Regions from separate parts of the Homo sapiens genome. Here region 1 is reported to be linked to region 2. The links are microRNA targets in miRTarBase. Many come from high-throughput screens and were not tested one by one. Region 2 holds a microRNA gene; the other region holds the end of a gene's coding sequence.
The links. The annotated mature microRNA hsa-miR-3681-5p reads UAGUGGAUGAUGCACUCUGUGC and lies in region 2 at 5,455-5,476, shown strand. An mRNA with a match to its seed (bases 2 to 7 or 8) in the 3' UTR can be bound and repressed. Matches are read on the target gene's strand: a 7mer-m8 pairs with bases 2 to 8, a 7mer-A1 pairs with bases 2 to 7 and ends in A, and an 8mer does both.

Region 1: miRTarBase lists USP36 as a target of hsa-miR-3681-5p. Seed matches in the 3' UTR shown: 7mer-A1 at 5,850-5,856.

What each region holds. Positions count from the first base shown.
Region 1 is chr17:78,791,205-78,801,995 of GRCh38, reverse strand. It overlaps USP36 (ubiquitin specific peptidase 36), which reads left to right. Exons shown (of 21, transcript NM_001385174.1): 18 at 2,228-2,329; 19 at 2,973-3,088; 20 at 3,445-3,596; 21 at 4,117-6,344. The coding sequence ends at 3,576. Among named protein-coding and RNA genes, the nearest start is that of CYTH1, 14 kb to the right of the region's middle. RefSeq lists an enhancer at 10,552-10,721.
Region 2 is chr2:12,193,684-12,204,474 of GRCh38, forward strand. MIR3681 (microRNA 3681) reads left to right here and starts at 5,447; the gene lies at 5,447-5,518. All of the region lies in intron 3 of MIR3681HG (MIR3681 host gene), which reads left to right.

The sequences.
Region 1 (10,791 bases), not on the chromosome of region 2:
TGTGGAGGGCCCTGGGACCCTACCAACCTTCACCCCCCACCCCCGAGTCTGCTCCCTTGGGTGATGGGGTTGAAGCTTCCTCATGTGTCACAGCATTTGACTGAAACAGCCCCATGAGAGAGGTTACAGTGCACATGAACTTTAAAACATTCTGTGAATGCCAGTGGGTCTTCCGATTCAAAGCTGTTCTGTCTACAGCTTCTCACGGAATGACTCCCTGAACTCCCAGCCTGAGTTTTTTTCTGTGATGGTTGAATTTAGAAGAGTTGGGTTCAAAAGTGAATCCTCCTCTCCCTCTATGTAGCTGGGCCATTCAGAACATAGCACGGTTTGCTTGCTGTTGGGGACCTGTGTGCTGTGGCTGTCCTTGGGCACCACCCCTCAATCGGAGGGTGTTTTGTTTTCTTTAGGGCTGGCTGGGGCATGCCTTGGCAGGCACCCGCCACAGAACACATTTGTTAAGTGAAGGGGAGAGAAAGTCCTGGCTGCTTGGTATAGGGGGCCGAGCTTGAGTGAGGCCTCCTCTGCAGTCTGGAAGGTCTGATTATGGCAGTGCATCTGGGGGTCAGCAGGACCTTAGAGACTGATTTGTATTTATCCAACTCTTAAGAAAGGAATTTATCGTTAAAAATGAAATGGTATGAAATAAATAGCAAAACGTGGGTGCTAGCTAGTGCCGACTGAGTTTGCTGGCCAGCATGCTCTCAGAAGTACTGCCCTGGCCGGGGGTGGTGGCTCACGCCTGTAATCCCAACACTTTGGGAGGCCGAGGCGGGCGGATCACAAGGTTAGGAGATCGAGACCATCCTGGCTGACACGGTGAAACCCCGTCTCTACTAAAAATACAAAAAGTTAGCCAGGCATGGTGGCGGGCGCCTCTAGTCCCAGCTACTCGGGAGGCTGAGGCAGGAGAATGGTGTGAACCCAGGAGGCGGAGCTTGCAGTGAGCCGAGATTGCGCCACTGCACTCCAGCCTGGGTGACAGAGTGAGACTCCGTCTCAAAAAAAAAAAAAAAAAAAAAAAAATACTGCCCTAACATGGCACCAGAGCTGTGCTCCGTGCCACCCTCGGAGCGAAGTGGAGTTGGCTTGTTAGTGCAAGGGACATCACTTGAGCACTTGCGGTGCGCCAGGGTCCATGCCAGGTGCTGGTTGTGTCTACTGAAGTGCGCCCTGGGCCCTCGGGGCTCCCTGGCAGAGCCAGAACCACACAGTAAGGGCTCATGCTCAGCAAGGAGGCGCTGGGGGCCGCATGGGCTCTTGCAGTCCTGTGCACCTGAGGAGAGTGGCTAAATGGGCAGGGCACCAGACCCAAGGGCAGGAGGCGCAGCACGTTGGGAGCAGGCAGGCTGCTCTGCATGGCCGGGTCCCTGGGCTGTGTGGATGAGATGGGAACCATGGAAGCCACTGTGTGGGGGCAGGGGACACTTAGCCTGGAGCTCACTGAGGAATTGGAGGCAGGGAGAAATGAGGTCAGATTTGTGTGAAGGGAGGTGAGTATATTCCAGGGGCTATGTGGCTAGCTGGGCAGAGGACGAGTTCAGAAAGGGTTTCTAGAACCCGATGAGGGTGGTGAGTGCTGTCCTGGTCCCGAGGTGCTGGGTGGACCTGTGCGGTGTTGCTGATGGGGACCAGGTTCCCCCTGGACAGGGCTTAGGAGGTCGGGCCCCTGATGGCAGCAGCCAAGCTTGGCCGTTCCCTCCACCCCTGTGGCCATCCAGGTGTCAGGCTGGTCCTGGGGCATGGGCCTCTCCCGTAGGTGAGGTGGATTCCATTTAGATCTAGTTCTCTTCTCTCCTTCTGTCAGACTGAGGACTTAACACTACTGGTTAAAGGGGTTTTGGAGGGTTTTTTTTTTTTTGGTTTTTAGCTTTTTGTTATTTTCCATGTTTTCTTTCTCATGAATTGACTTGGACAACAGCCTTCTCTATTGTGTCAGGTCATTAGTAAATTAAGCATGTAAGCATTAGTAAATAAGCATTTAGGCTGGGCGCCATGGCTCATGCCTGTAATCCCAGCACCTTGGGAGGCCAGTGGGAGTCCCAAGGAGTTTGAGACCAACCTAGGAAACATAGTGAGACCCTGTCTTTAAAAAAAAAAAAAAAAAAAAAAAAAAAAGGCAAGCATCCACTTACTGTAAGTTGTTTTATAATTTAAGGTGTGCGATTGCTTCCCCAGTGGGTTATTTTAAACGTCTGTAAATGTTTCTTGGCTGCTCCGATTGCAGGGCTGAGCCAGGCCCCTCCTGTGTCTTGGAATGGAGAGCGGGAGTCTGATGTGGTCCAGGAACTGCTCAAATACTCATCTGATAAAGCTTACGGGAGAAAAGGTACTGATTTGGAGACAGGACTTCTGTTTGCCTTTCATTGGTTGGTTTTGTAGGAGGGAAGGGTGTGGAATGGATCCTGGTGCACTGTGAGTGTGGCGGGCGGGCATCGCTCGGCTTTGAGAATGGGAAGAGGAATCTCAACACTGGCTGGAGTCCTCTTTAAACCCTCAGCCGTGGCACGAAGGTGGCTTCTGTCCGTGGCAGGATCCAGAACAGCTGCTTCTGAGGGTTGGGGCAGGGTGAGGAGCCCCACACATGCTGTGTCTTGGGTAGGGAAGGGGCAGAGTGACGAAGCTCTTCCAACCTGGGTAATGTCACTTCTTGCTCAGAGCATGTTTTTATTCAGACTTCGAGACCAAACATGACATCTTTGTTCCTCAGACGAGGGCATGGGTTTAGAAAGAACTGAACTCTTTGGCTGTGGTTTAGGGTTTAGCTAAGAGGGCATCGCTGGGGGTTCCATGCTGACCGACCACACATGGGCGTCGAGCCGTCCTCCTCTTGTCCTTCTCTTCACCACAAGGTGGCACTCAAAATTGTTGACTAATTATGAGTAGACTAGTTGGTAAATGACACTCTTGAAGTGAAGCCACAGGGGACCTGGGAACCTGCACTCGTGCTGACCCCCGTGTCTGCCTGGTAGTTCTGACCTGGGATGGCAAGATGTCGGCGGTCAGTCAGGATGCTATTGAAGACAGCAGACAGGCCCGGACTGAGACCGTGGTTGATGACTGGGACGAAGAGTTTGACCGAGGGAAGGTATGATGTGTGATGCTGACCACAGGCTTGAGGGAGCAGGGCGGCGTGGCTCAGCTCAGAGCCGGGGCAGTTGGAGGTGGCGGCAGTGGCATGAAGCGGCCGAGCATGAGAAGAGCCAGGCTGCCCAGGCCTGTCCGGGCGTGTGGCCATGGACAGGGCATGCATCCTCGCAGCTTCCGCCCCTTTGTCAATAGGGGGACTGCAGGTCGCCGTGCACAGGGGTCATTGTGAAGAGTGGGTCTCCAGAGAGCTCATGAGAGCCCGGCCTGTGTGCAGGACCTGCATGCAGCATGGAGCCCCGTGGGCCAGGAAAGAGCCGTTTTTGGGAACTGTGATGCCTGTGATTCTTGGTCTAGGAAAAGAAAATTAAAAAATTTAAGAGAGAGAAGAGGAGAAACTTCAACGCCTTCCAGAAACTTCAGACTCGACGGAACTTCTGGTCTGTGACTCACCCAGCAAAGGCTGCCAGCCTCAGCTATCGCCGCTGACTGTGCCCCTGTGGAAGGAGGTCGGTTCCGAGGGGGTGGGTGTAAGGGTGAGGTGGGGGTGTGTGTGCCGTGTATGTGTGTAGGGGTGTGGTGGGGTGTGGCGTGTGTGTATGATGTATGTGGGCTGTGTATCTGGCACATGTGTGTTGGGTGGTGTGTGTGGTGTGGGCGCGTCTGTGGTGTGTGTCCTAGTCACTTGGAGAAGGGTGTGTGTGGGATGCGTGTGTATAAGGGGGTGTGTGTGGGATGCGTGTGTATAAGGGGGTGTGTGTAGTGTGTGTTGGGTGTGGGGTGTGTACACCTGGCATCTGTGGCATGTGTTCTGGTCACTTGGAGAAGGGCATGTGTGGGGTGTGTGTGGGATGTGGGTTGTGTGTATATCTGGCATGTGTCCCAGTCACTTGCAGAAGGGTGACTTCTTGCCAGCCGCATCGAGATGCCATGCATTGGGTTCCTAGGTTGGACTCATACCCGAGGGTGGCAGTGGGAAGATTCGGGTCTCGTTTCTCTCTGTCAGGACTACCGTGGTTTGTTCTGCAGCCTCCTGGAGACAAGGCGTCCCTTCCCGGGAGCTGTCGGTCTGGATCTGAGGGAGCTCTCTGTGTGGGCTCTGCTGCGCTGGGAGCCTGTCACGGTAGGAGCTCTCCCGGTACCAGTGTCCACAGACCGCCCAACACAGAGGCTTTGAGGCTTCTCTAGATCGGAACCTCTTTGGTGACATTCCCGACCAGCCCTGCAAGAGAAACGACAGTGTGTGTGTGAGCAGAGGTGGCCGCACACCTGCTGGACATCTTTGCCAGGCTGTGCCTTCTCATGTTTCATAGACAGTGGTCTGTGCTGGCAGAGGCTGCTGCCCCTGGTTGGGGCTATCAGGAGAGTGGGGGATGGTGGCCACATGTCCCCCAGGTGGTCTCCCGGTGCATAGCTGGTGGCTCTGGGCAAGCCATCCCTTGCTTCTCGGGGCTGACGCCACCGTTGTGTCCGAGCCCGCCCTCCCCTGCTTCCTCAGCGGGACCCCTTCATCTGTTGGCCTTACCTGTCCTCAGAAAGGAAGAGGTGACCCCACCCAGCCACCTCTCCCTTTTATGGAACTCGAGAGGGTGGCCCTACTGTGCACCCCTTCCTTGTGAGTAGCTCTCAACTGTCCTGGAGAGCAGAGGCTATTTGGGGTCGGAGGAGCCCTCGATACCTGCGAATACATCTGCTTTCCAGGCTGCTGTTTATTCTGAGACGACTGTGCTGTAGCTTCCCTTGCAGCTGCAATAACCCGCAGGTCTTCACTGAGGTGGAGGCTTTGGGGTAGAATTCTCCATTTATTTTACTACTTAATACAAAACATTTATTTTTGACCAGTCCTGTGGCTTCCATTAGCAATATGTTTCCTTTCCCAAATATGCAAATAGTGGCTTTGTTTGCTCAATTTTGTGAGTGCTTTGGAATTTAAATGATTGTATAACTCAAGAAGATTACTTTTCTATGTTGCTCAAGCTGTGCCTGCCAACTTGTAACTTAATAAATACAGGAAATCCTCAGAGAAGGTGATATTTTCAGGAAAAAGACAAATGCCCTCATAGTAGTGGGAAGTGTGAAGGTGACCGTGAACATCCTTCCTCATCGGGTCTGTCCCCGTCATTTCCTCCCGGAGTCGTCGCAGGTGGAGATGGACAACGTGGTGTTGGACTTAGACCTCCTTCAGTGTGGCTCTGCTGGGCCAGAGGCATCCTGCTGTCCCGGGTGGCTGCCTCGCTGTCTGCACCCCCTCTCCCTGGGGCAGCTTTGCTTCCTGCCCCTGTGCTCGGGGCCTGGGTGGTTACTGGCGTGTAGATGGAATTGCTTTTTTAATATGGGAAGATACATTTATTTTTTTCCATGTGGGTGGGTGTCTCTTTTTGGATTTTCTTCTGTTTTTACGTTTCTCTTCTTAGAAGGGTGGGAGAGAATCAAGCTCCTGTGGCCACCTGTGTCCCAGCAGCAGTGAGTGGAGCTGCTCAGGGTGCCCTCTCCTGCGGACCAGTCTCTGAATGTTCAAAGATGAGGGCCTGGCTTCCGTGCTCTGGCTTTGTAACTTATCTGGAAGGGAAAGCACATGCCTTCACGGGCAGGGTATGTTCCTTTTCTTCTCGGGGTGTTGACTTGCATTCCTGTGTGAACTGTTCCCTCTGCCATGTTTACCGTGTGATGTTCTGTAGTTGAAAATGTTAGTTGTCTGCTGGCACAGAATTTATCTCGTTCCTTTCTCTCCCTTCTCTCCTCCAAATCAGTCTCTTCCCTTCTCCACTAGATAACTGTAAAACCTTTTCCTGGGGTACATACATTCGTTAACTCTTGGGCAGTGGTGAGCACGAGATGACTTTCTGCAGCGTTTATCACTGTTGGGTGGAGTCACGTCCCTTCCCTCCACCGAAGTCATCAACCAGATAGGGAAGGGAAAGATGAGGCCCAGAAAACGAGTTCAAACTCTAGGTCTTGTACACGTATGTAAGTAAATGTCAATAACCCAAGCCTTTGTCATAGCAGTCACTTGGTTGACTTAGGATCTGGGTCTGTTGAATTTTGTGCTTGGGAATGGAGCTGGAGGGAGTGGGGCCTGTGTACAGCAGCTACCTCTCCCAGGTCCTCTCACTTGCCTGCCCCGCGTCCTGGTTGCATGGCCGCACCTGTGTGTGTGCAGAGGTCTGTGTCCCATCCTCTGCACCTCCTTTCCGGGGGCCTGGGGAGCCCCACGTGTTGCCAAGATCTTGGTGCAATAAAATACTCCGGTTTTGTGAGTTCTGTGTCTTTGTTGGTTTCATTTGATTTTTTTTTTTTAAAGTACATCCCAACCACAGTCTCGCTGATTCCACCTGTCCTGGAAGTTGAGGCTGGGCTAGGAGGGGCAGGTAGGTCCCTGCAGGGAGCTCAGTGACCAGGAGGTTATGAGAGCAGCCCTAGTGAATAGGTGACCAAGAGGCTGAATGAACCCCGGGGCGCAGGCGGGTTGCCGTGCAGCGGCTCCTGTTGAGAATGCTGCTCTGCAGCTGTTACCTGATGTGTGTGGCTCCCCGCATCTCCCTTTAGCAACTTGGAAGTAAGCTTTCTCCACCCCACGGTATCCACCAAACACAGGGCATCATGTCTTCGCTTCTCTTTAGGGGTTTGGCTGGACACCCCAAAATGAGGACAGCCAAGTAAGAACAAGCGAGGTGAGGCAGCTCCTGCATCCAAACCAAAGGGGTGGCAGAGAGCAGGGCACACTGCTGACCCAGAGGCCTTCCTGCCAGCCAGGCTGTGTCTGAAGGCATTTGCGTTGTAGCCTGGGCAGCGGTTGAGGGGGTTCTGAGGCTTGGAGAGGTGGTGATCTGACACCAACGCTGGGTGCAGTGGCGACATGGGCGAGGCTGTGGTTTTTACTTTTTTTTTTTTTTTTTTTTCCCGAACAGAGTCTCCCTCTGTCGCCCAGGCTGGAGTGCAGTGGCACGATTCTCCGCTCACTGCAACCTCTGCCTCCCGGGTTCAAGCAATTCTCCTGCCTCAGCCTCCCAAGAAGCTGGGAGTACAGGCACGCATCACCACGCCTGACTAATTTTTGTATTTTTAGTAGAGATGGGGTTCCACCATGTTGGCCAGGCTGGTCTCTTAACTCCTGACCTTGTGATCCGCTTGCCTCAGCCTCCCAAAGTGCTGGGATTCCAGGCGTGAGCCACTGCGCCTGGCTGATCTCCATCTCTTGACCTCGTGATCTGCCCGTCTTGGCCTCCCAAAGTGCTGGGATTCCAAGTGTGAGCCACCGCGCCTGACAGGCTTTTCCATTCTTAACTGCCGTTTCCCAAACACTAGGGCCACTTCTGGGTGTGTATAAAAGTGAACACACTCACGTCGTCTCGCAGGCGGCGGGCAGAGTCCCACCGGCAGGACTGACGGCTCCAGGGCAGGGTGAGTGCTGTTAGGGAGATGCAGGGAGGCCATGAGGAGCCTGTCATGAGCTCTGCCTGAAGCACCGTGGGGTGAGGTGACATTCTGAAAGGGGGCTGGCAGTGGGAGCTGGCCAGCAGGACTCAGCTGGCTAACTGTAAGTCAGGTGCAAAAGCGCAGGGCAGGTTTTGTTTGACAGTTTGGACAAGAAGGGTTACCAAGGTCTGATGTGCTTTTTAGACTCCTGAGGCTGATAGTGGATTCCAGGCTGCCTGATGGCCTGAAAGGCGGCTGGTGGAGTGCAGAGAACAGCAGGTGAGCATGACCAGCCGCCAGGTTGGCTGAGAAGTGGCCAAGGCTAGAGCTAAGAGATTGGCATTAGTAGCATAGGCTAGAAGTGAGGTCACTTGGATATTTAGGAGATGGACTCAAGAGGTGAGATGACAGATAGGGTGGAATGTTCTGGGTGGAGTTTAAGATGATTTCTGCTAGGGTGGTTAGTTGGGTTCGGAGGCCAAGTAGTAGCCAGGGAAGCAAGCGGCTCACCGATGGTTTCAGGAAGGCCTTCAGGTGGTGAGAGATTCAATCTGACTTAGTGGACGTGTTGGCATCTTACCAGTACAGGGAACCCAGGGAGAATCCTAGGCATGGGAAGTAGGCAGTGGGTGAACTCCGAGTCTTCTAGTTAGGAAAAAGCCCAGGTGTCTGGACACTGGGGAATCAGGTGGGCATCTGTTTATCCCTAACATACTGTTAGGGCTCATCATAACTGTAATAGTGACCTTAAGGGCAGTTTAACACTGGACGGTGCTGTGAGAATCCCTGCCTCAAGTCTTGGTAGCTTGGACAACCTCAGCGCAATGAGGATGTGGGTACGCCAAGGACGTGGTGGTAAAGGAGGACTGTGTGTGGACAGGTCACGTGACATGCAGACGGGCAGCTTTCTGTGTCTTGTCAGCTGAGCTGACTCCCTGGAGTCACACTCTTGCCCGGAGGTGGCCCTGCTGCTGCTTCGTGCAGATCCCGCCTTGGCTTGGCCCCCTGCTCCTTCCATATCTGGACTGGGGATGACCCTTGGAGAAGATCATCTGGGTGCCATGGATTCGGCTTTCAGGGCTGTCTGGCTGCCCTTCTTCGTTGGGCTCTGCCTGCCTTTTGGGATTTCTGCCCTTGGTCTTCAGGCAACTCCTTCCTCTCTCTCCCATTCTTTTCAGTGATCCCTGCACACTATTTTGCTCTCTCATTGCATATGTGCCCACTACTCTTGGTAAGTGACTTCCAAGGCTACCTCAAGAATTCCCATCCCACCCCAAAATTAAACAACATGGGGAAACCAAAGCTAAAACCAGCTCCTCTCCCTCTGTTCTCTTCTCCTTCTTACCTCAGGGTTCTCAATGCTCATAGGGCAGCAGGAGCACCTGGGGAGAGGCATTCGATACTGACGGAAGTAGAATCAGAATCTATGGGTGAGGCTTAGGCATCAGCATTTAAAGCCTTCCTGGGGGGGTGAGGGGGGCGGGCGCGGTGGCTCACACCTGTAATCCCAGCACTTTGGGAGGCTGAGGCGGGCGGATCACTTGAGGTCAGAAGTTCGAGACCAGCCTGACCAACATGGTGAAACCCTGTCTCTACTAAAAATACAAAAATTAGCTGGGCTTGGCCTGTGCCTGTAATCCCAACTACTTGGGAGGCTGAGGCAGGAGAACTGCTTGAACCTGGGAGGTGGAGGTTGCAGTGAGCCAAGATCATGCCACTGCACTCCAGCCTGGGCGACAGAGTGAGACTCTGTCTCAAAAACAACGACAACAAAAAAAACCTTCCCGGGGGGATCATAGTGAGCAGCAGAGTTGAGAGTTGCCATCCTGGTCCCTGGTCTCAAACTCAAGTGAGCACCAGAATTGCCAGGGGCTCCTTAAAACACCAGTTGCCGGGCTCCTTCCCCCGCATTCTGATTCAGCAGGTCTGGGATGAGGCCTGAGAATGTGCATGTCCAATAGTCCCCGGGGCTGCTGCTGGGCAGACCCACTGTTCTGATCTGATGCCTCCCAGAGGGGCTGGGTGGTTGGTGTGGGAGAGTGGGAAGGAACTGTAGTATAGGGGCTGTTCCCCATCCTCTGTGGGGACCTCTACTGGAGATGCTGGACGAGGTGCCCCCTCTGTGTATGCTGGCACCCCACCTGTGCCCTTGAGGCCAACTTCTTCCACCCTGGGGACCTTGCTCCATTAATTACCCTGTCTGCTCCCGTGTCTCACTCTTCCCTTAGGAACATGTTCAGGCATCTCCCATCCTAAAAAGCCTGTGTGTCCTTGTGTCCCCTCTCAGCTGCCCTCTCCTTTGGTTGACATTCATTTTGCTCTGTGTTGACTCTCTGTGGTTCTTAGTCTAGCTTCTGCCATCATCACTTCTCAGTGACCTAATTCCCACTCTTGCCACCGACTTCTTCCCAGGATTTGACACTGTTGACCTCCGCACCCTGGAGAGCTCCTCTAAGATGTGAGCCTGTTGCATTTGCTGCATACTCTAGATCAAGCCCAGAATCAACTGATCCAGTCAATACATCCCACTGAACAGCCGACCGATCCACCCTCTGTCAGGATCTCTACTGTAGACACTGAAAGAGGTGCCCCCTCAGTATAGGATCCTGGCCTCAAATAATCTTCTCGCCTTGGCCTCCCAAAGCATTGGGATTACAGGTGTGAGCCACTGTGCCTGGCCTCCAGGACAATCTTTTAAGGCAAGAAACCAGAATCTAATCATTCCCCAACATAAGGTTTCTCACTCCTGTTCAGAGAAAATAGTCTCCTCTATTTTGTGATCCAGATCCCCCCTGCCTCTTCAGCCTTCCACAGCCCCCTAGAGGCCTCTGGGCAGCTGTCCAGCCCGTTGTTCTGGGATCTCAGAAAGCACTCCAGGCATTGAGGAAATTGCCCTGTGAGAGGGGCCTGAGATTAAAAATGTGCTTGTTCTTAGCAGAATCTGTACCAAACTGTTGCTTCAAGTTGCTTTCTCAAGGGGAAACTGCTGTATATTTTTGCTGCTTTAAAGGGATTAAAGTAGGGTCAGGCTGGAGTCAGGTTTGAATCATGACTTCCTATAAAAAGAAGGCCAGGGCCGGGCACGGTGGCTCATGCCTGTAATCCCAGCACTTTGGGAGGCCTAGGCGGGGCGGATCACCTGAGGTCAGGACACAACATGGAGAAACCCCGTCTCTACTAAAAATACAAAATCAGCCGGGCATGGTGGTGCATGCCTGTAATCCCAGCTACTTGGGAGGGTGAGGCAGGAGAATCGCTTGAACCCGGGAGGTGGAGGTTGCGGTGAGC
Region 2 (10,791 bases):
ATATCTGTCGAATTTATATGGTATTTGCCTTTCTGTGACTGGTTTATTTTACTTGGCATAATGTCTTCCAGGTTCATCCATGTTGTTGCATATGACAAGATTCCCTTCTTTTTCAAAGCTGAATAATATCCCATTGTATGTATAGATTACATTTTCATTATTCATTATCCAATGTTGGACATCACTAATCATCAGAGAAATGCAAATCAAAATCATGAGATATCATCTCACACCTGTTAGGGTGACTATTCTAAAAAAAACAAAAGATGGTGCTATGGTTTAAATGTGTCCCTCAAAGGTCATGTGTTGAAAACGTGATACCTATTGTGAAGGTGTTGGGAGATGGGGCCTTTAAGAGATGTTGAATGCCATTATCAGAGAGTGGGTTCCTTATAAAAGGATGAGCTCAGGCCCCTCTTTCTCTTGCTATCACCACTTCTTTGCCCTTCCACCATAAGATGATGCAGAAAGAAGGCCCTCACAAGAGGCTGGCACCTGATCTTGGACTTTCCAGCCTCCAGAACTGTGAGACACAAATTTCTGTTCTTTATAAATTACTCAGCCTGAGATATTCTGTTATAGGAGCACAAAACAGACTAGGACAGTTGGCAAGGATATGGAGAAATTGGAAAACTTGTTCACTGTTGGTGGAAATGTAAAATGGTTGAGCCATTATGGAAAGCAGTATAGAGGTTCTTTAAAAATAAAAATAGAATTATCATATATTCCAGAAATCCCACTTCTGGGTATATAGCTAATAGACATAAAATCAGGATCTTAAAGAAATATTTGTTTGATATCTGCACTCTTACGTTCACTGCAACATTATGTATAATAGGCAAAATATGGCCACCTTTGAATTAGTGCTGAAAGCTCACTTTAATCTTTTCTTCCAGATCTGGGGTATTTCAATTCAAGTCTCAAGAACAGGGATCTGCTTTTCCTGTATCTGACTGTGCCTTTAACTGGCTGTACAACCTTGGAAATCGTCCTTTCTATGCTGCAATTTCTTCAGTGAGGAAATAAGTATAGTCATAGCTAGGTGATCATTGGCATCTTGACCCATAAATATATCTTCTCCAACATCATGCAGGCTGGAGTCATCACAGGTACCTGAGAACCGTGCTGCTACCTTGGCTAGGGACAGGTATTCAAGGATGTGTGCAATCTTCTATTCCAGAGCAAGGTAGCTAGTTCCATTGCCACTTACTGCTTTGTGGTGTTCCTAAGTGGGGTTGAAGCAACTTTTATACAGAACATGTTTTGATTCCACTGACTTTAACAAAGGGGATTTCCCAGATGGAGCAGGGTTGAATTGTTTGGTGGACCCAGTTTCCATGCCACAACATACACTCACCCATGATCTCCTTCACAAGAAAATAGGAATGCATCATTGTTCTTTTGCACTCAAAAGCATTTGCAATTGGCACTCCTGTCTGTCACAGTGACATGGATTGACCTACCCTCTGCAATCTATATGACTCCTAGGAACCATGGGACAGAAATTACAGTCGTTGAGAGGTCTCATGACATTCAGCTAGCCCATTCATCAAGGTCTCCACTTGCTTGCAAATTACACCCTGTTGCTCTCATCAAATGAGTCAGTGAGTTGAGGACATGCACAGTTTTTGCTTTAAAATACAAATTGAAAATGGCAGGAGGGATCTTGTCAGACAAGACATTAATGAAAAATTTGAAATATTCTGTAAAATCGAATGTTGTACCGTTTCATTAAAATTTAGTGAACTAATTCCAATATAGACATTTATAGATAGTAAACATTTTTATTACTGATTTTTATGTTTTATGAGCTCAAATTGATCTAAATTTCTCAAAGAAAGGCTAAGAATAAAGAAAAGAGCAGGCAGTAGAGGCATGTGGGAGGAGTTGCTCATACTAATTCTGAAAATGGGTTATCATCTTCATTTGTGTAGTCCTGCATATAAACGTAGAAAGATTTACAAAAAACCAATTTTCACTACGATTTTAAAATATCTTGAAGCAAAAACACAGCCTTCAATTTTGATAACATTTTTGTGTGATTAGATAGTTAAACTACATGAGGAAAAAGTGCTACATTTGGATTGGAAGAAAGAACAGAAACAACTCTAGAATGTATTGAGAATGCAGTTTGTATGGGGCTCAGTGTCTCTTTGAGAGTCCAAGTCACCTCTTTCTGCAGAGCAAGAGCTTGATATTTGAAGCCAACTTGAAGCAGCTCTGCCTTGACCAGTGGAGGTTCACAAAAGCCTAAATATCCTCTTTATTTGTAAAATGGGATTATTGCAGAACCCATCTTGTAGAGTTCAGTAAGAGTCAAATACAATATGACCTGCTAAATACCCAGCACTTTCTGAGACCCTTGATTAATTGTAACTATGATTTACTTTATCTTTCCTAGGGTGGCAGCTGTAGTCTTCACTTGAAATTTTGATTTTTATTCCGTTCCCAAGTAGACATGATAAACTATAGCTAATTAAATGGTTGTGTTGTATAAAATGAAAACAATCAGCAACCCAGAAAATATCACCCCATCTTGAATATACAAAACATAGGCACAAACTTTGTCTAGTGAGCATGAAATGGTTTCTTATTCCCAGGTGGGCGATGTTGCCAGAAAAAGACAACATTTATTTCCAGCCTTTATAGTTCAGGAGATATTTGAAAGTGAGATATAAGGGAAAAAAATTAAATCCAGTGCTGGAAGCAAGTCATTCAGACAGGACCCTATCTTCTGGGTAAAAGAAGGACAGTAATGTCCCTCCTACCCCCACCACACACACACAGTAGTCAAGCAGAAGGCGTTTGGATGAGAATACACAAGGAAGTCCAGCTTCCTTGAACAATTTTTGTGTGCTTGCAAGATAGCAGTAAAAATATAACTGAGCAATGGAAGTGGTTTGTGTGTGAGCCCTGAGAAAAGAACTGGGACATTAGTGAGGCTGAGAACTTGCCAAAGCAAAAATGCTAGAGGCAAAGGTCACTAGTAAAAATGAGGTGAAACTTAGACACAGAGAGCAGATGTACTTCAGTAATTACTCACAGCCTAGGCAGTGGATACTGATGCTTGTCACTGGGTATAACTAAGGGGTAGACCAGTGCCTACTGTGCTGTTTATAAATGAAGTTTAGTGTTTTTTACCCCCTTCCCCTAAAATTCCCCGACCTTTTAAAATTCTTTGGAAGCTTAAACATCTTTTATAGGTAGGTGTGTTAGTCCATTTTTATGCTGCTGATAAAGACATACCCAAGACTGGGTGAATTATAAAGAAAAGAGGTTTAATGGATTCACAGTTCCGCACGGCTGGAGGGAATCATCACAATCATGGTGGAGGGAAGGAGGAGCAAGTCACATCTTACATGGTGGCAGGAAAGAGAGAACTTGTACGGGGGGAACTTTGCTTTATAAGAACATCAGATCTCATAAGGCTTATTCATTATCCTGAGAACAGCACAGAAAAGACCTGCCCCCAGGATTTGATTACCTCCCACTGGGTTCTTCCCAGGACACATGGGAATTTTGGGAGCTACAATTCAAGATGAGATTTGGGTGGGGATACAGCCAAACCATATCAGTATACTTAAAGAGAGAGGCAGGAAATGAATGGTTTTAGTAGTATTGCTCACACTTAGCATTTCAGTGCTGTGACAGGGTAGGTAGTGCAAAGTGAGGGAACTAAGTTTGTGGGGAAACTGCTATCTACTGCTACATGACAGTATTACCACAAACCTGGAAGCTGGAAGCCACACACATTTATTATCTCAGAGTTTCTGTGGATTAGGAGTCTGGGCATGCGTTAGTTGGGCCCTTTTTAAGGTTGCAAACTAGGTGTCAGTAAGAACTGAGTACTCATCTGAGGCTCAACTGGGGAAGGATACACTTATAGGCTTAGATGGTTACTAGTAGCATTGAAATCCTTACAGGCTGCTGAACTGAGGGCCTCAGTTTCTTGCCAGTTGTCCTCAATTTTTTGCCACATAACTGTCCATAGGGCAGTGCACAACATGACAGCTTGTTTTCTCAAAACCAAGAGGAAAGAGAGTTTTTCGGTGTGATAGTCATTACAATCTTATACAACATTGTGAAGGAAGTGAAATCTGTTCCTTTCGCTGTATTCCATTGGTTAGAAGCAAGTCGAACGTCCCACCCACAGTCAAGTGTGTGAGTTCTACAGCAGCATGACTCCAGGAGGAGCACATCATGGGCGCCAACTTAAGTCTGGTCAACAAAACTACTGTGGATGGAGAACTATAAAGACATTGAATAATTAATTTTTTAATTTCACTCTGAGGCACATATTAATATGATTTTACAGATGAGTAAGACGAGCTTCTCAAATATGAAGACCCTTATTACTCCGCACTTGGTCCATAGCAACTCCCTGTAAACTTGTTTCTTTCCTTCTAGAAAATCCTCTCCAGTTCCATTTTCTACACAGCAACTAGAATGACAAAACAAATGTGATCACATCCATGTTCTGTTAAACAACCTTAGTGCTCCTCTTACCTCTTTAACATGATGGATACCATTGGCCCTTCATTAAATTGTCCTCAAACTACTGAAGCTTATAGTTTTTGGGGTCCCCTGGTGCCGTCCCCACAATGCACAATGCTCCTACACTTCCCCCATCTGAATGCAGGCCTCTTTTCCCTGCACACACTGAGCTTCATCTTCCTGACCCTCGGAGTTATCTGAGGCACCTGACTCCAGGTTCTAGAAAGTGAGATTCTCCATTATTTCTTCTCCCCACATTCCCTGGGCCTCACCTACCTGGAGATTATCTAGAGCTCTCAGCATGCTGCATGAAGAGCCTCCAGGTTTGAGTGGACCCCAGCTCCTGGGAGGCTCTCAGACTCCTTAGGAGCAACCCCAGTGACACCTTTCAGCATCAGGCGTCACTGCTGCATGCTCATTTCCTTCGCCAATCACTGCATAAACATGATTTATCTGTTGTACAGAGAGGCAACAGAAGCATTAGAACATTTGAGCTCCTTTTCCTGGTTGGCTGGAGGGGGCACTTACTTCTAGTAAGCGAGGTATTTAACATCTCTAGTCTATCATACACCAATTATTTAATATTAATTTTTATACATGCAACATTGGAGGACTAGGATTTGCTTACCTGTAAGGCCTTTTCTATCAGGATAGCATACTTTAAAGAGCCTGGAGAGGAACATAATTTTCCTTTTAAAAATAACAATTCCTGCCACGGAAGATGAATCCTGTAAGCATGCGAGCAGAGAAGCTGTACTGGATGAAGAAATCCTGTGCCCCTTTGGGTTCCCTTCACTATCTGACTGTCTCCTTCCCTCTAAAGCACAGCCTGCCTCCCAGACCTGCTTACCAACAACCTCTGATGGGACGTCCACGAGATGGCTGGAAGTCCCCAGCCTGCCTGGCTCACAAGCCCTGCACACCAAGCCCATCTTCAAGGAGACACTTGTCTACTTCCAGTAGTGGATGATGCACTCTGTGCAGGGCCAACTGTGCACACAGTGCTTCATCCACTACTGGAAGTGTCATGAGCTACTGTTCAGGAGTCCAGTGCAACCTGGAATTCTGAGGGTGTTAACTGTCCAAGTGGCAAATGGATCAATGGAAACAGGAAATAGGAAGGAGCTAGCTGGGTTATTCCCCCTCCTGTGTTTCTCCCATGTGCTACCCCAAGACAGAGATATTCGTTGTAATTTTCCTGGACAAGCCTAGGGCTGCCAGTTGTAACTTCAAGGCTTGTGGGGAAGGAGCAGCAAGGTGATGCATCACTTCACCTGGCATCCCAGATTTCTTTGCCTTTACTTCACTTCTTCCTCTCTTTCCTGGGTTTGCACATCCCAAATAAAGTCTTAGGTTTTTTTGTCTCAATGGCTCAGGCTAAGACAGAAGCCCAACTGTGAAGGCTACTCACGTTCTCACCCTGCTGTATCGTAGAATGGAGCTGAAATACAAAATTGAGATTCAACACATTCAGTCCCGACCAGAAACATTTCAAGGAAATCTGTGCTCACAGCAAGATTGAGTGATGGGACACAGCGCTTGAGATTTCAAGGCAAATGCTTTTTATGTCGTACTCAACATGATTAGCTTCACACGTTACCAAAAAAAAAAAAAAAAAAAAAAAAAACAAAAACCAAAAAAACCCCACAAAAAACTGACTCATAAAACATGTATTGATGTTGCATTTGGGAACAGCTGCAGCCAGCCTGTGTGCAGAAATACACAAAAATGATTATCTTCCTAAAATCAATCTTTGCAGTTCTGGAAGAAGACAGAAGACGGAAATAGCTCTTTGTGGAGCTGAGTGACATGTTCTGGCCAGGCATTCTTTGTTAATATAACAGATGAGAATTAGACAAATTGGAGCTGGAAAGCGCTCCTGTCATAATGTGGCTGATGGGTCTGTGGAACAGCAGCAGCCATGCCTGCAGGATGTGCTCACTGCTTTCCTGAGCTCCTTTTAAATAATCCAAGCTGTGACACTTCCCTAAGTGGAAGCTGATCTCTAAATTAGGTGAAATGTTAATATTATGTAGTTTAATCCATCCTTGAAGTCAGAGAGTTTGCAGAGGGGGTGGCTTGGGAGCCTCCTGATGGATTGTTCATTCATTCTTTCAGGCATTTATTCATTCATGTATTGAATTCAGAACTGCCCAGTAGAGCTTTCTGCTGTGATGAAGGGTCCCATAACAGCACTTTCTGATACTGTAGTCGCTAGCCATTTGTGACTACTGAGCACTTGAAATGGGGGTACAAGATGAATTTTTTATTGTATATGATTTCAGTTAATTTAAATTTGAGTAGTTAAATGTGGCTAGTGGCTACCGTATTGGATGGTGTAGCTAAACATTCATTCATTTAAAAATATTTACTGGATATCTACTAAAAGGCCTCTTAGAAGGTGCTTGGTAAATATTTTAGGGGAATAGTGGGTACTCAATATATATATTTTTAGTGACATGAGGAAGGCAAGCTGGGTCCACAAATATTTTTAGTAAAACAGGGACTAAATATTGTAAAACACACATACAATTTTATGAGACTAGATATACATATATCTGATGATAGAATAACTTATTTTATTAATTTATTTTTAATTCTATTGGTTTAAAATGGGCAAGGCAAAGATTAGGTATCTCTTCATGTCAAAGATATATTTGTGTTGAACCTGGAATGGAATTCCAAGCAGAGAGAACAGAGAAGGATGAGTAAAGGGTCCCAGAAATAGCTCTTTGGTTCATAGTGGATAAGACAAGAAGGGTCTAGAGGTTACACAAAGAGGCATAAGGATTGTGCACTATTTCCATCCAGGAAATATAAAGGCAAATTTTCAGCATGTTCAGATTAGAAAATTTATTGTAAGAAAAAAAAAAAAAAAAACACAAGAGAATTTCTGATTAGGATACAGAAGTTGTAATCACAAGTTGTTCATCAATCTTTTGTCATCCCCCAAACAAACATTGGTGGCTTTTCCAATGGCCTAGATCTACCGACTGAATTATGGCAAGAGAGTCCCAGGCAAAAATCACAGGACCCCTTGTCCTTAGCAGATTGTCTCAAGCACCACTTACTTAAATGGGTAGAGTCAAGTTCCCCATAAACAGCAAACAGTGATATGGCCTGGTGTTCACATTTGAGGAATTATTATTTTATACTAGTAGCAGCGATAAGTTTTTGAGTATAAGTAGTGATGATCACATTCTAATTGAGCCACAATTTCAGTTTTTGAAAATGGAAATTGTGGTGTGGGGACAGAGTTTCTTTATCTTCAAAGGAGAGAAATCTTTGCAAAAGTCAAGTCATAGATGACTATCATCCAGTAACAAGAAAAAGGAAGCAATCTTCCTGAACTTCCCCTTCTGCCTGCCAATGTTAACAAGAATAGCAGGAGAGCCGTGTTTGAGCTCATGGTGACCCTGCACATGACAACCAACGTTGCATTTAACCTTCACAGTCCCATGAGGTAGATCAGAAAAGTCTGAATTTATGGGTAAAGAAGTCGAGCTCTGCGCAGGCTCACAGCATTTTTTAAGGTTATACCGTGAGTCTGTTTCAGACGAAGTGAAGTTGGTCCTACTCCAGATCTGTTTGTTGTCTTCTAAGAGATCATGCCTCTCTTAAGCTATCCATTGCCCACGGTCTCAAGTGTCACAGTACAACTTCACAAGCTGATGAGTAAGAAAAAAATAAGACAATTATGTAGATGATGATAATGCATGGTGGAGTGTGACGATATCCTTAAAGAAAATGTTTATGGAATTTAAGTCCAAGCCAGGATGGGGGCACATGTGGTTGAATGGAACAGGGGGCTTCATGGAGCAGGTCAAACGCAGGTGAGATTCGACTGTAGAGTAGAGGGAGTGTGTGGGTTGCTGGGGAGAGAGGCAGGCAGCCGAAATGACAGAAATACTTACTGAAATATCTGTGTCCCTTTCGGCTGGAGACTGAGAGGGAGACTACATCTGTGAATTAAGTGTAACAGAATGCTCTGTGGCTGAAAAGAATCCTCACGTGTACTTAATATATGTTCACTTAGAAGAAGGTAAAACCTGCCATTTCATAGCTTACAAATCTCTCTCTATATCTGTGTTTGTGTGTGTGTGTGTGTGTGTGTGTGTGTGTGTTTAATCTACCAAATAATTCAGAATTTAAATCTGGGCCAGATTAAGTCTTTGTTTCATTCAAAGATATTAATTAAGCGAACTTGGCCGGGCACTGAAGGTAGGCAAAGGAGAAGAATGTGGCTCCTGCAGCCCTGGAGCTCAGGAATCTGTTTGGAAAGACAAGCGTTGCCTGTGCTGTAAAGAAACACAGACTTACGTAAGAATGGTGCAAGGAAAACAACTGGTTTCAAATATGTAAAGAATTTCTGGGGGAGGATGCTGTTCAATTTTCTCTCTCTTGGGAGGATAGAAGAGGAGCGAATGGTTTTACATCGGAGCCAGTGTGTATAGTTAGTAAGTAGGAAGCCCGATCCTGTTTATCAACTCAGATGTAAACATTGCAAAGGCCAGAGGTGGTCCTGACATTGCTTGGGGATGCTGGAGGGGAGTCCTCAGAAGGTCACCTGGAGGTGCTTGAAGGATAGGAGGAGTTTGGGAGACTCAAAAATGAATGGTAGGACGGAGAGAGATCGTTGTCCAGACAGATGGAATAGCATGTGTGAAGGCGCTAGTGCCGAGAATCACTTTAGGTTCTTGGCCTTCTTCAACAATGGAAAGGAGGCCCCTGGTGCTGAAGTGTGAGGATAGCAAAGCAGACAGCAGCAGGAGGAGAGGCTGGAGAATGTCCAAAGGCCAGAGTGCTCACAGCTTTACTGGGAGGAGAGAAGATTTTCCCCTGAGCACCATGAATCTATCTGTTCTACAAATGCAAAGCAAATGCCGCCTATTCTCAGGAAAACTAAAATCATCTTGAACCCTAACACAGGAAAAAGAAATATTCCAAAAGTTGCAATGAAGTTTGCAGAGAATAAAGTTCCCTAAAAACACACAGAATTTGCAAACTGTAAACCTAGCTCCTCAATGTATGCATCAGAATTCAGGTCAATTTTGATTTGCTCTTGGAGAGAGTAAGCCTCTGCATGTTTTTGTTCATGCATTTGCTTATCGGAGCCTGAGTACCAGGAGCCACATGGCTAAAGGCGAAGCATGCATGGCTGCTTTCCATTTACTTCTAGCTGGAGACCATGTAAAAGGACAGAATCAGAGTTTTTCCTGCTGCACGGTTGATGTCCTGCTCACAGTATTCAAGACTAAGTAACCTCAAATGTACTGGAGTTCAAACATTTTGCTCCGATGAAATTTTATTTTCCTTTTTGGACTATAATTCAGGACCACATTCTTGTGGGTGATAATGGGGTTCCCCCAAAGAGGAAGTAGATATTTCCATTATCAATCCTGCTGGAATAGGATGGTGGGGGGCAATGTTGGACAGAGAAGACAAAGCTCTTTTCTCTTTGAGGTCACATGAGAGTTAGGCATGAGAACTCTCATGAGAGACAAAGCAGCTTGCTCCCTGTTATATGAAGGCTGATAAGGATCACAGAGAGTCAGGCCAGGATCACAGAGAGAGAGAGGCCAGGATCTCAGAGCAAAAGTCCCATCAGAACCACAGAGGATCAGGCCAGAATTGCAGAGGGAGAGGCTGGCCAGAAGTACAATGAGGATGCCAGGATCGCAGAGAGGCCACACTGCATGGGATGGAGAGATGGTGGATCTGAGTTTGTGGACACTGAACGTTATGAGATATTTTAACCGTTGCAACTTATCCTCTGTGTTGTTCTTTTATTCTGTTTTCTGGGTAGTGTATTGCCTGCATAAGGGAAAAGCGTGGGGGCTGGAAATGCAGCTGAGCAGAAAACCTTGGAGCACTTGTTTCTCATCTCACATGAAGTAGGGGAGTTAATGGGAACCTGGGTGTGGGAGGGGCTGAAGGATGGGGATCTTGCTTTGTAATGTGAGAATGTAAGAAGAACGTGACCTTCTACTGTTTTCCTAGGTTGGAGGGGACCGGCCAAACCCCAAGGAAAGTGGAGAGAAGAAAGGCATGGAGGGGTTCTGTGGAGGGTGTGGAAAGGGAGGATGTGTAAATCCCAGCGTGGGTTTGGAGAACCTAAGTAGGTTGGCTTCCCTGGGGTTTAAATCACAGAGGTGTTGGGAGGTGAGCCCGAAATGGAAATAGGCCGCATCTTGAAGAATCCCACGTGCGGTGCTGAGAAGTTTGCATATGGAACAATGGACTAATTTTAAACAGGGGAATGGCATAGTCAGATTTGGATTTCCAACAGATTGCTCC